4 linked regions of the Homo sapiens genome follow. The gene in region 4 interacts genetically with the main gene of each other region. Each region holds a gene or a part of one and is shown on either strand. Other genes may lie near its edges. The genes, in order: CAMK1G, AGPAT1, DMPK and KSR1.

Region 1 (3,669 bases), on a different chromosome or scaffold from region 4:
CCAATAACTCATACTCATAAAAACATATGCATAGGCAAAATGAATCTTTATCTCCTCCAAACTCTGCCTTCTGCTAGTGTGACTCACATCCGATTTTGTTGGATTTTCTTATAGGCACCTCTGTATCCAGCATAGGCTCCTGAGGGTAAGGAATTTTGTCTGCCTCATCCTTGTGGTTCTGATCCTGTGTTCATGTGCCTAATACACTTTTGGTACACCATAAGGGTTTCACAAGGGTCTGTGGTAAGAGTCTTGCTGTAAACATATGATGATTTGTAGTGTTGCCTTCATCAAGATGGTTGGGGTGCTGAACCTCCATTTGCTTTGTTATAAATTGAAGCTAATTTCCAAATCTTATGCTGCCTCCTTAATTATTAATTGTTCCTGATGTTGGCCCTCAATTGATTTTTGTTCCTTTGAGCTAATTACTCTCCAGCCTGTGTGCACAAACCAGTTCTGCCACCAGTGGATTTGCTCATCAATTTGTTGCCAAAAAAAAAAAAATCAGCTAGGACAGCTGTCCGACTAAACTTAGCTAATTGACTGAACTGACCCATCAACTCAATCAAAGTGAGCAATGCCTTTGGGTGCAGAAATCCAGTCCTAGTCCTTTTTGAAGGTAATTTGTGAAGAAAATGTTGTGATCCCATAGTGATCCAGTCAACACTAAGACCCACTCACTTTTTCAACACAGCAATCTCATTCTCCAGGCTGCTGTCCCGGAAGGCAGGTGACTTCTTGATGCACTTCAGAGCAAAGAGCTTCCCAGTCAGTCTTTGCTTCACCAGGAAAACTTCTGAGAAAGCTCCTCTGAGGAGAAGACACCAAAAGATAAAACTTAGTAGGGGGCAGACATCTTACACTTCCAGATGTAAGACCTCAGAAAGGACGTAACAGAGTCTATATAGTCCTCTGACCACAAAGGCATATACTGAATTTAAATCTGGAAGAAACATCAGGAAAGCACAAAATTTAAAAAAGGGAAGGGGGGAACCTGTATTCTTCCAAAATGCCAATGTCATAAAAAAGCTAGGGAGAGATAACACCCAAGTGAAATATCAGACCCTAGACTGGAACCTGTACTGGAGGGGAAAAATGCTATAAAACACATAATAGGGTCAATTGATAAAACTGGAGTAGGGAAGACAGACTAGGTACACTTAATGTGTCCATGTTCAATTGACTGAAGTTGAGAACTGTCCTATGGTCACGTAAGGGAATACCCCATCCCTAGAAATATACACAAATGTCCTTGATAGGTAAAGGTTCATGATGTCTGTCCACAACTAACGCTTGGGAGATTAGGAAAGAATCATCTTTCTACATCTATCTCTACAGATCTACAGAGAACATAGCAATGAGAAGGCAGATGGGAGAAATTGTGAACAAGAGGTGAATCTGGGCAGGGGGCATTTGGAAATTCTTTCTACCATTCTTATTCTTATTTTATTTTATTATTTTTTTAGAGATGGGGCTTCACTATGTTGCTGATCTGGTTAGGCTTTGTGTCCCCACTCAAATCTCATCTTGAATTATAATCCCCATAATCCTCATAATCCCCATGTGTCAAGGGAGAGACCAGGTAGAGGTGATTGGCTCATGGGAGCAGTTTCCCTCATGATGTTCTCAGGATAGTGAGTGAGTTCTCACGGGATCTGATGGTTTTATAAGGGGCTCTTCCCCCTTTGCTTGGCACTTCTTCCTGCCGCCTTGTGAAGAAGGTGCCTTACTTCCCCTTCACCTTCTGCCATGATTGTCAGTTTCCTGGGGCCACCTCAGCCATGCTGAACTGTGAGTTAATTAAACCTCTTTCCTTTATAAATTGCCCAGTCTCAAGCTGTTCTTCATAGCAGTATAAAAATAGACTAACCCAGTTGCCCAAACTGGTCTTGAACTCCTGGGATCAAGCAGCTCTTCTCCTTTGGCTTTCCAAAGCGTTGGGATTACAGGTATGAGCCACCAAGCCTGGCGTTATTCTTATTTTTGAAACGTTTTTCTAAGTTTGAAATTATTTCCAACTAAAAAGTTAAACAATCAAACTTAGAGGCAAAGTGAAAGGGTAGATGAGGGAAGGACTGATAATTACTCTTCATTGTCATGTGGGCGCTGCTGAGTTATGTTGATGGCAGTTGTATCTGACATGCTAATGTGCTTTCTAATTTGAAGACCATATTGGAAGAAAAAGATGCCACCACAGATTCAGGGGCTAGGCAGGTGTTATTTCCTGGTTCTATAGTTTGGGAATGACCCCTAGAGACAGAGACTCCACTGCAGCTGTGGAGAGATTTCTTCACTTGGCATGCCCACTAAAAAGAAGCCACTACAGAGTCAATTCATGCCACTTTCAATGTGACTCAGGATGGCACACTGGAGTGGCAGCTGGAGGTAGCAGATGGGACAGAGTGCAGATACAGTGAGAACAAAAAGACTCGTCTCTCAATTTTAGGTGGTGGTGATCACTCTGTACCAGTTATCAGAGGCCAGGGTGCTGAGCAACCTCTCATTCATTCAGTAGGATCTGCAAAGACAAAAGAGAGAACCTAGCAGTCTCTGAGGCAGGCTCTGAAGACAGAGCAGGTGGAACCAATGGGAATACAGGGCAGGATTCCAAATTACAGGCCTCTTGGTTTGAAGGGGGTCCTCTGGAGATCAGGCTATCAGACCAGCAGTTAAGCTAGGTACAGATGCTGAAGCCTGATTGTTCACGTTAGAATCTCAGCTTTTGGGATAAAAAGTCACTTAACTCCCATATTCCCAGTTTCCTCATCTGAAATGTGGGAGTATCAATAGTATCTGATTCACAAGGTTGTTTAGAAGATTAAATGACTTGATATATGTAAAAAGCTTAAAAGTGTTTCTGACATCTATTAAGACCATAAGTGTTAGATACTATTATTATCATCACTATTATTTGAATACCATTATGAAGAACACCCAGTAGTACAAGAGGAGAGAGAATCTAAGTAAGGAAACAGCTGAGCCATCCTTGACCCTGCCATCTGGATATGCTAGAATGAAAGCCCAATAGGAGTCAAGCTTCTATAAGGACTTTAAAAATCTGCATTAGAAATTACTTGGTGTTTCCTGTGTCTGAGTTTCCTGTTTTCCCAGCTGCACTTGGAACTGAGTTAATCAAAGCCGCCCGAGCTTGCTCTATTCATCCATTCACTTACTCATCCCTTCAACCAAGATTTATTGAACACCTACTGAGTATTAGACACTGGAAATTAAAAGGTGAGTGTTTCCATTCTTAAGAAACCTGTAGAATAGTGAGGAACAGGGACAAGTAAGCAATTAGCATTTGATTTGAAAAATGCTATCAGGCATTCAATGAATGTTTATTGAACTGATGGAACCTCTCTGTGTCAGGCACTAAGATTAGTATTGGTCTAGCTTGGAATTCAATGTGAAAGACAGATACATACACAACACATAAGAATGACATATTAAGAGACCACAGAAAATGGACACTTAAGACAGGGCCCCTGCTATTATTGGGCAGGTTGTGCAGTGCAACAACTTCAGCAGGTGCCATTCACCTTGAAGCCATCATACATGTTCATATGATAATTATTATATTTCCTGCCCGAGCAGACAACAGGCTAGATAAAAGAGCACCTTTTTCATAATTTGTACACTTGTCCACTCTCCACCATGCCCCACTGTGGT
Region 2 (2,855 bases), on a different chromosome or scaffold from region 4:
ATAGGTGTGATGTTATAATGGGACCTTTGAGGCCCACTGGCCCTGCATATCAGTTTATTTACAACTGTTCTACTCTGTATCCCTCCAATCCCCCATTTCCCCAGGATGACTCACGTCCTGGGTGAGCAGGGTCTGGGCGACCTCAGACATGACACTGATGGCATCCCCCGTGCGCTTCCGGTCGATGAAGATGACTCCTGCCAGCCAGCAGGCCAGCCCGGCAGAGCCAGCCCACAGTAGCTCGCGCTTGGCAATGGGCACACAGCGGCCTGGCAGTACCTCCATCATCCCTTGGGCAGGGTGGGAGTGGGTGAGGATCGGGGTGGAGGCAGAGTGTCACAGAAGGCAACCCACCTCACCCAGCTCATCACCCTCTGGTAGGGACTGGAGGTGAAGGAGGAGACTAGGCAGGGAGGGGGGCCCCAAGTGAAGGAAAGGGTGACCAAAAGTATATGTAACCTGCTTATGAGGGCAGTTCTACCCAGGGAATGAAGGCCTGAGTGGGAGGCAAGGGGGCAATGTCCCAGAGGAAGGGGAATTGAGGATCTCTAGGAGAAGATATTCTAGGGAAGGTTTCAGGAGGGGAGGCATGGCTGGGGGAGGTGTGCCCTGTGGTGGGGTCTCACCAAGCAGATCGAGAGAGCTCTGGTGGTTGGAGACAACAACATAGGGCTGCGAGGGAGGGAAGTGGTGAGCCCCTCGCACCTCCACTCGGATCCCGTACAGGTATTTGATGTGGAGCAGCATTAGACGCAAGATCCTGTGGGGTCATGGCAAGGGGTCCCAGTGGGATCCATTGATGTCCATCTGCATGCCTCAGCTCCCCCCACCTTACTGTCTTTCTGACCACCTTTGCAGTCCTCTCCCCATTCCCTGTCTCTGGTCTCTCTCAGTCTTTTCTACACACACCATGCCCCCTTCCCCCAATCCACTACTCACTTTGTACCCTTAGGTTCCCTCATTGCCCAAGACCCCTTGCCCCTCACTTCATGTTCTCGACGTTGCGTCCTCGCACGGCACACACAGGGATGGCGAGCACAGCCAGGAAGAGGATCCAGCCATTGTAGAAGGCCATCTTGAAGAAGTACTTGGCACTGGGGCTGCAGAACCACAGGGTGGGCAGCAGGAAGAGCAGCAGCAGGAAGAGCAGCAGCAGCAGCATCCATGCCCCTGGCCACAAATCCATTCTGGCCACCTGCAGGGGATGGGGCAAGGGACAATCAGCCTGGTTTCTGGAGGAGAGTGGGGTAGGCAAGGCACAGAAGGCAGGGCTGGGGGCTGGTGCTATGAGGACAAGGGCCTGAGACACAAACTGGGGCAGGGGTCTCATTGAAACCTTCCCAGGAAGGCTCTCTAGGATGAGGGTGGTGGAGAAAGAGCTCAGGACTGCTCTCCCACCACTCTTCCCAAAGGCTCCGGATATATTCAGACAAGAGACACAAGACACAGACATCTACAATTCACAGATACCTGATAATAAATGACAACAAGAATAATAGCTAACACTTGTAGCTGGTAAGGGTCTTATAATGGTCTATACTTGTGCTGTCCGAGAAAGTAGCCACCACCTACATGTGGCTACTTGAAATGCAGCTAGTCTGAACTGAGATGTGCTGGAAATGTAAAATACACATCAGATTTCAAAGACTGAATAAAAAACAAAATGTGAGATATCCATTACTAATCTTTTATGCTGACTACATTTTGAAATTATAATCTTGGGCCGGGCGCAGTGGCTCACGCCTGTAATCCCAGCACTTTGGGAAGCCGAGGTGGGCAGATCACGAGGTCAGGAGTTCAGGACCAGCCTGACCAACATGGTGAAACCCCGTCTCTACTAAAAATACAAAAATTAGCCGGGCCTGTTGGCGCATGCCTTTAATCCCAGCTACTCGGGAGGCTGAGGCAGGAGAATCGCTTGAATCCGGGAGGCGGAGGTTGCAGTGAGCCAAGATCACGCCACTGCACTCTAGCCTGGGCAATGGAGTGAGACTCCATTTCCAAAAAAAAAAAAAGAAATTATAATCTTTTGGATGTTATCAGATTCAAGAAAATATATTACTAAAATTAATTTCACTCTTTTTGCCTTGTAAAAATGTGGCTACCATAAAAAAATTACATTGTGGCTTGCATTATATTTCTGTAGAACAGTACTGGTCTATACATTAAGTTAAACTCTTAAAATGATGCATATGATAGTCTAGAAAGTACTATTACTATTTACATTTTATAGGAAATAGGCCCAGGGAGGCTAAATAACTTACCTGAGGTCATACAGCTCCTAAACAGCAGTTTCTAGGTTAAATCTAAGCCGCCTGTGTTCCTAACCACTCCATTACGCTGACACTGGTATGTATTGCATATATATATACGAACACAGCACACAGCATATATGGTGATTGTGACAGAACACTCACAGCCATATACCCAAGGGCCAAATGGCAAGATTAAAAGTTCGTGTCACTAATGCCAACAGACACACAGTCATACAAAGACTAACATGTTCACACATAGACACAAATTTATAATTACACCCAGTGACAGATAAAAGAATGTAAATGCATAACTAGAAAAATCCCTCTCCACCCAGGCAGCTCCCCTATTCCTAGGTAAACTTATGGACATACCTGGAATAGCTACAAAGACCAATCCTACCTCCAGACAGGCAAACGAATCCTACTACCCTTTCCCTTCCTTCTAGTGACACTTTGCGTGGGCAGGTACAGTGTGTGAGGCCTCACCAAGTGAAAAAAGGAGGGAATGGAGTAAAGGTGACCTAACAGCACTTGCCCTGGGAGAGGAAAGGGCTCAAGAGGAAGAGAGGCAGGAACACAGAACCTGTGTTCTAGGTTCTT
Region 3 (3,669 bases), on a different chromosome or scaffold from region 4:
TAACTGGAATTACAGGCACCCGAGACCACACCCAGCTAATTTTCTTGTATTTTTAGTAGAGACGGGGTTTCACCGTGTTGGCCAGCCTAGTCTCAAAACTCCTGATCTCATGACCCACCGGCCTTGGACTCCCAAAGTGCTGGGATTACAGGCATGAGCCACAGCGCCCGGCCGCGGTCCAGCCTATTTTTTTTTTTTTTTTTTTTTTTTTCTGAGACAGAGTCTCGCTCTGTCGCCCAGGCTGGAGTGCAGTGGCACGATCTCGGCTCACTGCAAACTCTGCCTCCCGGGTTCACGCCATTCTCCTGCCTCAGCCTCCTGAGTAGCTGGGACTACAGGCGCCCGCCACCACGCCTGGCTAATTTTTTGTATTTTTAGGAGAGATGGGGTTTCACCGTGTTAGCCAAGATGGTCTCGATCTCCTGACCTCGTGATCCACCCGCCTCGGCCTCCCAAAGTGCTGAGATTACAGGCGTGAGCCACCACGCCCGGCCAGCCCAGCCTATTTTTTAATTTCAGTTTATCTTATTTTTGAGACAGAGTCTCTCTCCGTTGCCCAGGCTGGAGTGCAGTGGCACAATCACAGCTCACTGCAGCCTTGACCTCCTGGGCTCAAGCCCACGTCGGCCACCCTAGTAGCTGAGTATACAGGCATGCGCCACCACGCCCAACCAATTTTTAAAACATTTTTGTAGAGACGGGGGTCTCACCACATTGCCCAGGCTGGTCTCGAACTCCTGGGCTCAAGCAATCCACCCACTTCGGCCTGCCAAATTGCTGGGGTTACAGGCGTGAGCCACCGTGCCTGGCCCCATCATTTTTTCTTGTATCCTGTTGCTTCCCTTCAGGGCACCTGCCACACTCTCCATAATTCTCTAATTCTCTAGACTGCAACTGGATGAGGGCAGGGACCAGAGCTCATCTGGTCCGTGCTGGATCCCCAGTATTGTTCAGCAAAAGGGCACCCAGAGCCGAGCAAGCATGCCATGACAGCTTGTTACACGGTGAAGAGAGACGGCCTAAGGGAGGAGGAGTCCTCTCCTGCTTCTCATCCCTCCAAGTCTCAGCTCAGATAGCTCCCCACTCCAGAAAGCCCTCCAGGACCTTCCTTGCTGAGTCAGGAGTCCCCCACCCCCTGCACTCCATTGTCTCAGCCCTGATCACTCTGGGGCCTTACTGTCTGAAGACTGCTCTGTGTTCCCCCACTGGACTGTAAGTCTAGGTCACTGCTGGGTCCTCAGTAGTAGATGGGCACAGAGCAGGTGCTCTGGGGAATGAGTGATTCAGGACCCCAGAAGGTAGGCACTGTCCTTACTCCAACTTTATGGAGGGAGCATGGGGAGGTTCCCGCAGCCGAGCAGGGGCCACAGGTACCTACCCCGCCCCCGCTCACCATGGCAGTGAGCCCGTCCTCCACCAAGTCGAAGTTGCATGTGTCGGTGGCACCTTCGAAATCCGGTGTAAAGGGGGGCACGCTGTCCCGGAGACCATCCCAGTCGAGGCCAAAGAAGAAGGGATGTGTCCGGAAGTCGCCTGCTCCACCCCGGCCCAGCCGTGTCTCCGGGGGACACAGCAACCGCTGAATGAAGTCTCGAGCCTCCTCAGGGACCCCTTCGTCCACCAGCGGCAGAGAGAGGTGCTCCTGCTCAGAGGGAGAGGAGGCGATAGCCTGGGAGCGCCTACCGGGAGAGGCCAGGTCTCCCTGCGGCCGTGCTCACCTTGTAGTGGACGATCTTGCCATAGGTCTCCGCCGTGGAATCCGCGTAGAAGGGCGTCTGCCCATAGAACATTTCATAGGCGAATACACCCAGCGCCCACCAGTCACACTCGGGCCCGTAGCTGCCTGTCCCAGGCCCACCGCCCACAGCCTGCAGGATCTCGGGGGACAGGTAGTCTGGGGTGCCCACAGCCACCAGCGACCGCACCTGGACCAAAAGGAGCAGAGCGAGGCTTGGGCCCACCCCTCTGGGCCCACCAGCTCTGGGCCCTCCTTCCAACCACTCCCCAAATGCTTAGCCCCTCCCTCTGCCTGGTCTAATACTCCGCCACACAGATGCACACTTAAGCCTGGGTCACACCACCTCTTTTCCCCTCCAAATCCAGTCCCGCTCCCACACTCTGTGCCTTCCATCCCTCATCAGCAGCCCCAGTTGCTCTGTGGCCAGGGCACTGGCTCACCGTTCCATCTGCCCGCAGCTTGAGGCAAGAGCCGAAGTCGGCCAGGCGGATGTGGCCACAGCGGTCCAGCAGGATGTTGTCGGGTTTGATGTCCCTGCACGGAGGAAAAGAGAAGGGTGGGATAAATGAACCTCCCTTCTGTGGTCCCACCAGGCTCCGCCCCTCCGGGCAGTGCCACCTGGGACCCCACTTCCTCGGGTTCCGCCCCTGTAGGGCTTCTACAGTTCTGACCCCTACTCCCAGGCACCCCCCGGTGGGCCCCAACCAAGAAGGTCCCTCTCCAGGCCCTGGCCTCTCTGGGCTCTGACCTTCCAAGAACCCGGCCAGGGAACAAGCTTGCTATCCCCTCGGCCATGCTGCACCCACCTGTGCACGTAGCCAAGCCGGTGCACCGAGTCTATGGCCATGACAATCTCCGCCAGGTAGAAGCGCGCCATCTCGGCCGGAATCCGCTCCCCAAACTTGCTCAGCAGTGTCAGCAGGTCCCCGCCCACGTAATACTCCATGACCAGGTACTGAGAAGGGGTTCGTCATGGGTGGTTGGTAGTCCCCTGAGGCCCTGATCCATCACGGATGGCTGGGACAACCCCTCCCAGAGACACCCCATCCTTGGGCAGAGACCTGCAGCCCCAGCCCAGAGATAACCATAGAGATCTGCCGGGCCAAATCAGAGACCACCTGCGGCCCCCGCCCCCGCCCCTCAAAAAAAAACACAAACAAAAAAACTTTCCTGGGATGTCACTGGGCAGATTCACTCCCCCTGAGATGTTCTGGGAAAGAGAACCCAGAGGCCACCCAACACCCAGAGAATAGGTCCCAGACACTCCTTCCCTAGGCAGTGGCCCCGTTAGAATTCCTGAAGACCTATCCCATTCCAGGTAAGAGACCCCCCGCAACAGAGACATCTTTATAAGAGTCCCCCAGATCACCCCAGAAACGGGCAGTGAAGGACACCATCCCCGTCTCAGATAGGGAAGGCCCCTCATCCACCTGACACACCCTCTTACCGCACACAGACTTTCCCACAGACGTTTCCGGGCAGCACCCCCAATCCTAGAGCTTCCTCTCCCCACCTCCTCGTCCAGTGACAGCACGGGCTCTTGTCCCTCTTCCTAGTCACCCCGGCCCGGAGCTCACCAGGTAGTTCTCATCCTGGAAGGCGAAGTGCAGCTGCGTGATCCACCGCCGGTCCCCATTCACCAACACGTCCCTCTCCTCACGGAAGCACGACACCTGCAGGGCACCCGGAGGAGCTGCAGCCGGAGACGGGGCGCGGATCCTCAAAGCCCCCCACGTCCGCCCAGCCCCTCACCTCGCCCCTCTTCAGCATGTCCCACTTGTTCATGATCTTCATGGCATACACCTGGCCCGTCTGCTTCATCTTCACTACCGCTACCTGAGGTCGAGATAGTGAGACAGAGTGGAGACGGCGGGAAAACAAAAGGGCTCGCCCAGACCCAACTCCACCCGCTTCTGCACCCAGCCGTGGCC
Region 4 (3,669 bases):
AGGCAGGAAGTGCAAACTCCAGGCAGGCAGGCAGGCAGGCGGGCACACCTCTCTCGGCAAGTTTCCTCTTCTTGTTAGAAGGATTCAGTGATACATGTATTTAAGTGCTAATGTGATGCCCAGGAGACACCCTATTTCCCTTTGTAAAAAAGGCAATTTCTCATGGCTGGATAAGTCTACAGGGATACCAGCCTCTCTTCAACCACCCAATTTTATTTGGAAACTCAAACAGCACCTCAGTTTCATAAAAACCTAAAACTTAAACACAACACTTGGTTGTAAGTGAGCCAACAGTTTCTTGTCTCTTTCTCTGCTCAAGGCTTAAGGCCATGTCTCCCCAACTACGTTCAGTGGAAGAAAAGATCCCCTGGACAAATAAGTTTGAGAACTGTTGTTGCAGTACTTCTCAGAACCTTTAAAACACAAATCCTCATCCGCAGGGATCTTCAGGAGGGAGATGGCTGATGCAGCACAACTTTCTTCACAGGAGCATCTTGCAGAATACAGTGAGATACAGAAAGGCTGCACTGAGCCTTTTTAAGGGCCCAGGCCTTGGTGGGAGTGGGGTAGGAGCTCTCCAGATAGCTCCTAATGAGTAGGAACATTCAGGTGGCTTTTTTTTTTCCTTATTGGCAAAACTGTGTGTGCACCATGAATGAAGCTGGTCTCCCTTATCCATATCAAAACTAAACCCAAATTAATTGGATAAATTGGGACTCAACCCCTCAAGGAGCCATGCGGAAGAAAGCCCCACCACACTTTAAAGTAGCTTACCACATCATATTTGCGGAAAGCAAAACGCTTATGACCAGTATGCTGCTAATACAAATCTATAGATAATGCTGTATGAAAAATTATTTTTCCCAATCATAGCTGGCATAGTCCACATTTTGCATTACACTTTCCCCCCTTTTTTAAAAATTTTAAACACGGGTCTTTATCTCTTCTTTTTTTAAATTTTAATTTAATTATACAAGACAGAGTCTCAGTATGTCGCCCAGGCTGGTCTGGAACTCCTGAGCTCAAGCGATACGTCCGTCTCTGCCTCCCAAAGTGCTGGGATTATAGGCCTAAGACACTGTGCCCGGCCTTAAACACAAATCTTAATTCATTCTTACAATTATCCGGAGATTAGAAAAATGGAAGGGGAAGAAAAATGGCAAGCAGGTAGGCTGACTTCAGCTTCATTATTTGGAAAGACAGTTTGCTCAGTTAAAACACACTACTGCCCACCAAGGCCAAGACAACAGAAAAATACAGACTTACATAAATAGATTTTATATGTGACAGCAGTTTGAATGGAGACTTTTTCAATGCAAATGACAAACAGCTGTGCCTGGGAATAAATGACAACAAATTTTTTTATCTCAACAGCTGTCCTGAGAGCACGTCTCTACATCTCTACCTGCATTCTGGAATCAGGGAGAAAGCCAAAACGGACAAGACACTAGATCAGCCGTGTCCAACCCTTTGACTACAAGGACTTTTCCGCCTATCTGTGGTGGTGGGTATCATGAAAATTATGCACAAACCTTTTTTTTTTTTTTTAAGCTCATCAGCTATTGTTAGCATTAGTGTATTTTATCTGTGGCCCAGGAGCATTCTTCTTCCAATGTGGCCCTGAGAAGCCAAAAGACTGGACACCTGTGCACTAGATTAAAAGGCTACTCCTTCTGGAAGCAATTGTAAAGAATTTTTACATTATCTTGACATGAAAACCAATGGATAGTGGCACAGAATGCAAAATCTGCAAGGATTTTTCTTGCTGGTTTTTTTTTTTTTTGAGTCAAGTTCTTGCTCTGTGGCCCAGGCTGGAGTACACTGGTGAGATCACAGCTCAGTGCAGGCTCAAGTGCTCCTCCAGCCTCAGCCACTGTAGTAGCTGGGACAACAGGTGTGCACAACCACCCCTGGCTAATATTTTATTTTTTGTAGAGACAGGGTCTCACTATGTTGTTCACATTGGTCTCAAACTCCTTGACTCAAGGGATCCAGGATAGGATTACAGGTGTGAGCCACCACACCTGGCCATGCGCATGAACTTTTAAGACAAACACAAGGCCCCATAAAAGTTAAGGATTTCCCACCTAATTTCCAGGGGATCTTTTGGTGCAAGGATGAGAAGCCCTTAAAAGTAAACAGACAACTCCAAAGATTCAAGACAGTTCATTCGGGCTGAGCCAGCCCACTGAGCAGACTGACCTTCAAAAAAGGTCCACCCGTGACATACCCCAGATGGCGCTCCAAGAATCTCTCCAGTCCTCAGGGCCCCTAAGGCACTGGGACAGAGCTAGGAAAGCAAACCCATTTGCTTCTTCCTGCAGGAAACCCCTTGAGGTCAACACCCCACAATCAGAGGAGGATGGAGTGGCTCACCCTCAGTCAACAGGCCAGACTCAAGGTGGTATAATGTCTTAATCAAGGGTGTGGGCCTCCAGGTCTGACTCCCAACTCAGTGCTCCTTTAATAACCACCCTTTGTTAATTCTGCTTAACAGGGGTTCCTGGCAAGTCAGTTCTCCCTCAGGCCTTCAGTTTCCTCACCTGCAAGATGAGAGGGCTGGACCACATGGAAATTCCAAGACCCTTTGTAGCCCTAGGAACCCACAACTCTACTAAATCATCCCCAAAGCCAGGCACCCCAAATAGCACTGTGATCAGTATTTGTAGTTAGGGATGCAACCAAGAATGCAGTTAAAGTGACTTTCATGAGCCTCAAGTGATCAAGACCTCACCATATGATTATGTACTACCAAAGCTGATCAGTCTCTGGACAGGGAGACCTGAAATCCAGCCCCTCCCTCCGCTATCTTGGAGCAAGGAAAAGGCCTTCTTCTAATTGGTCAGCCCAGGGGGCCCCCCTTTGCTGCAGGTAACCACAAAAACTAGAAGCCACAATGCCTGACACATAGCCCAGAACCTCAGACACAAGCAACCACAAAACTAGAAGCCATAGTTCCTGACACTTATCCCAGAATCTCAGCCAGAGGACCATGTCCAGCCTCTTTTTTTTTTTTTTTTTCTCTGTCATCCAGGCTGGAGTGCAATGATGCAATCTCAGGTCACTGCAACCTCCACCTCAGCCTCCTGAGTAGCTAGAACTACAGGAGCGTGCCACCATGCATGGCTAATTTTCTATTTCTTGTAGAGACGGGGTTTACCATGTTGCCCAGGCTGGTTTCGAACTCCTAGACTCAAGCTATCCACCAGCCTCAGCCTCTCAAGGTGCTGGGATTACAGGCATGAGCCACCGCACCCAGGCCCAGCCTCCTTTTAAACTCTTGGCCGTCAGTGTGATTACAGATGCAGTGGCAAATGGATAAATGTATGAAGGCTGCCATTCCTGCTTAGGAGAGGGGGAGTTATGATGCCATAAAGATATTAAAGACGAGGACAGATATTAAATGTATTCATATACTTTGACCCAGCAAATCTCACTTGTAGGAAGATACTCGTTGCAGCACCATTTATAAAAGCAAGACTTGGAAACAGCCTGAATGGCCCACACAGGGAAACCGGTTAGATGAATTTGTGGTATGACCACACAATGCAGCCACTAATAGTGCTGATGCATATGTATATGTGCTGATACAGACAGAAGACATTTACAAGGCAATGCACATGGTATGTGCCACAAATATACACATGTACATTTATATGCAAATGCAGG

Evidence for each region.
Region 1: changes in KSR1 (region 4) and CAMK1G together harm fitness less than expected from each alone (positive genetic interaction), as found in Homo sapiens cells (one large-scale study listed by BioGRID).
Region 2: changes in KSR1 (region 4) and AGPAT1 together harm fitness more than expected from each alone (negative genetic interaction), as found in Homo sapiens cells (one large-scale study listed by BioGRID).
Region 3: changes in KSR1 (region 4) and DMPK together harm fitness more than expected from each alone (negative genetic interaction), as found in Homo sapiens cells (one large-scale study listed by BioGRID).

What each region holds. Positions count from the first base shown.
Region 1 is NC_000001.11:209,597,124-209,600,792, reverse strand, and holds part of CAMK1G (calcium/calmodulin-dependent protein kinase type 1G), read right to left. Parts: intron 811-3,669; coding exon 682-810; intron 1-681. UniProt on the Homo sapiens protein: Calcium/calmodulin-dependent protein kinase belonging to a proposed calcium-triggered signaling cascade. In vitro phosphorylates transcription factor CREB1.
Region 2 is NC_000006.12:32,170,311-32,173,165, forward strand, and holds part of AGPAT1 (1-acyl-sn-glycerol-3-phosphate acyltransferase alpha isoform 1 precursor), read right to left. Parts: intron 2,807-2,855; exon of another isoform or gene 2,628-2,806; intron 1,196-2,627; coding exon of another isoform or gene 1,187-1,195; coding exon 987-1,186; intron 761-986; coding exon 627-760; intron 291-626; coding exon 115-290; intron 1-114. UniProt on the Homo sapiens protein: Converts 1-acyl-sn-glycerol-3-phosphate (lysophosphatidic acid or LPA) into 1,2-diacyl-sn-glycerol-3-phosphate (phosphatidic acid or PA) by incorporating an acyl moiety at the sn-2 position of the glycerol backbone.
Region 3 is NC_000019.10:45,775,949-45,779,617, forward strand, and holds part of DMPK (myotonin-protein kinase), read right to left. Parts: exon of another isoform or gene 3,575-3,669; coding exon 3,491-3,574; intron 3,412-3,490; coding exon 3,316-3,411; exon of another isoform or gene 3,186-3,315; intron 2,694-3,185; coding exon 2,545-2,693; intron 2,273-2,544; coding exon 2,179-2,272; intron 1,926-2,178; coding exon 1,719-1,925; intron 1,643-1,718; coding exon 1,379-1,642; intron 1-1,378. UniProt on the Homo sapiens protein: Non-receptor serine/threonine protein kinase which is necessary for the maintenance of skeletal muscle structure and function.
Region 4 is NC_000017.11:27,462,820-27,466,488, reverse strand, and holds part of KSR1 (kinase suppressor of Ras 1), read right to left. Parts: intron 1-3,669.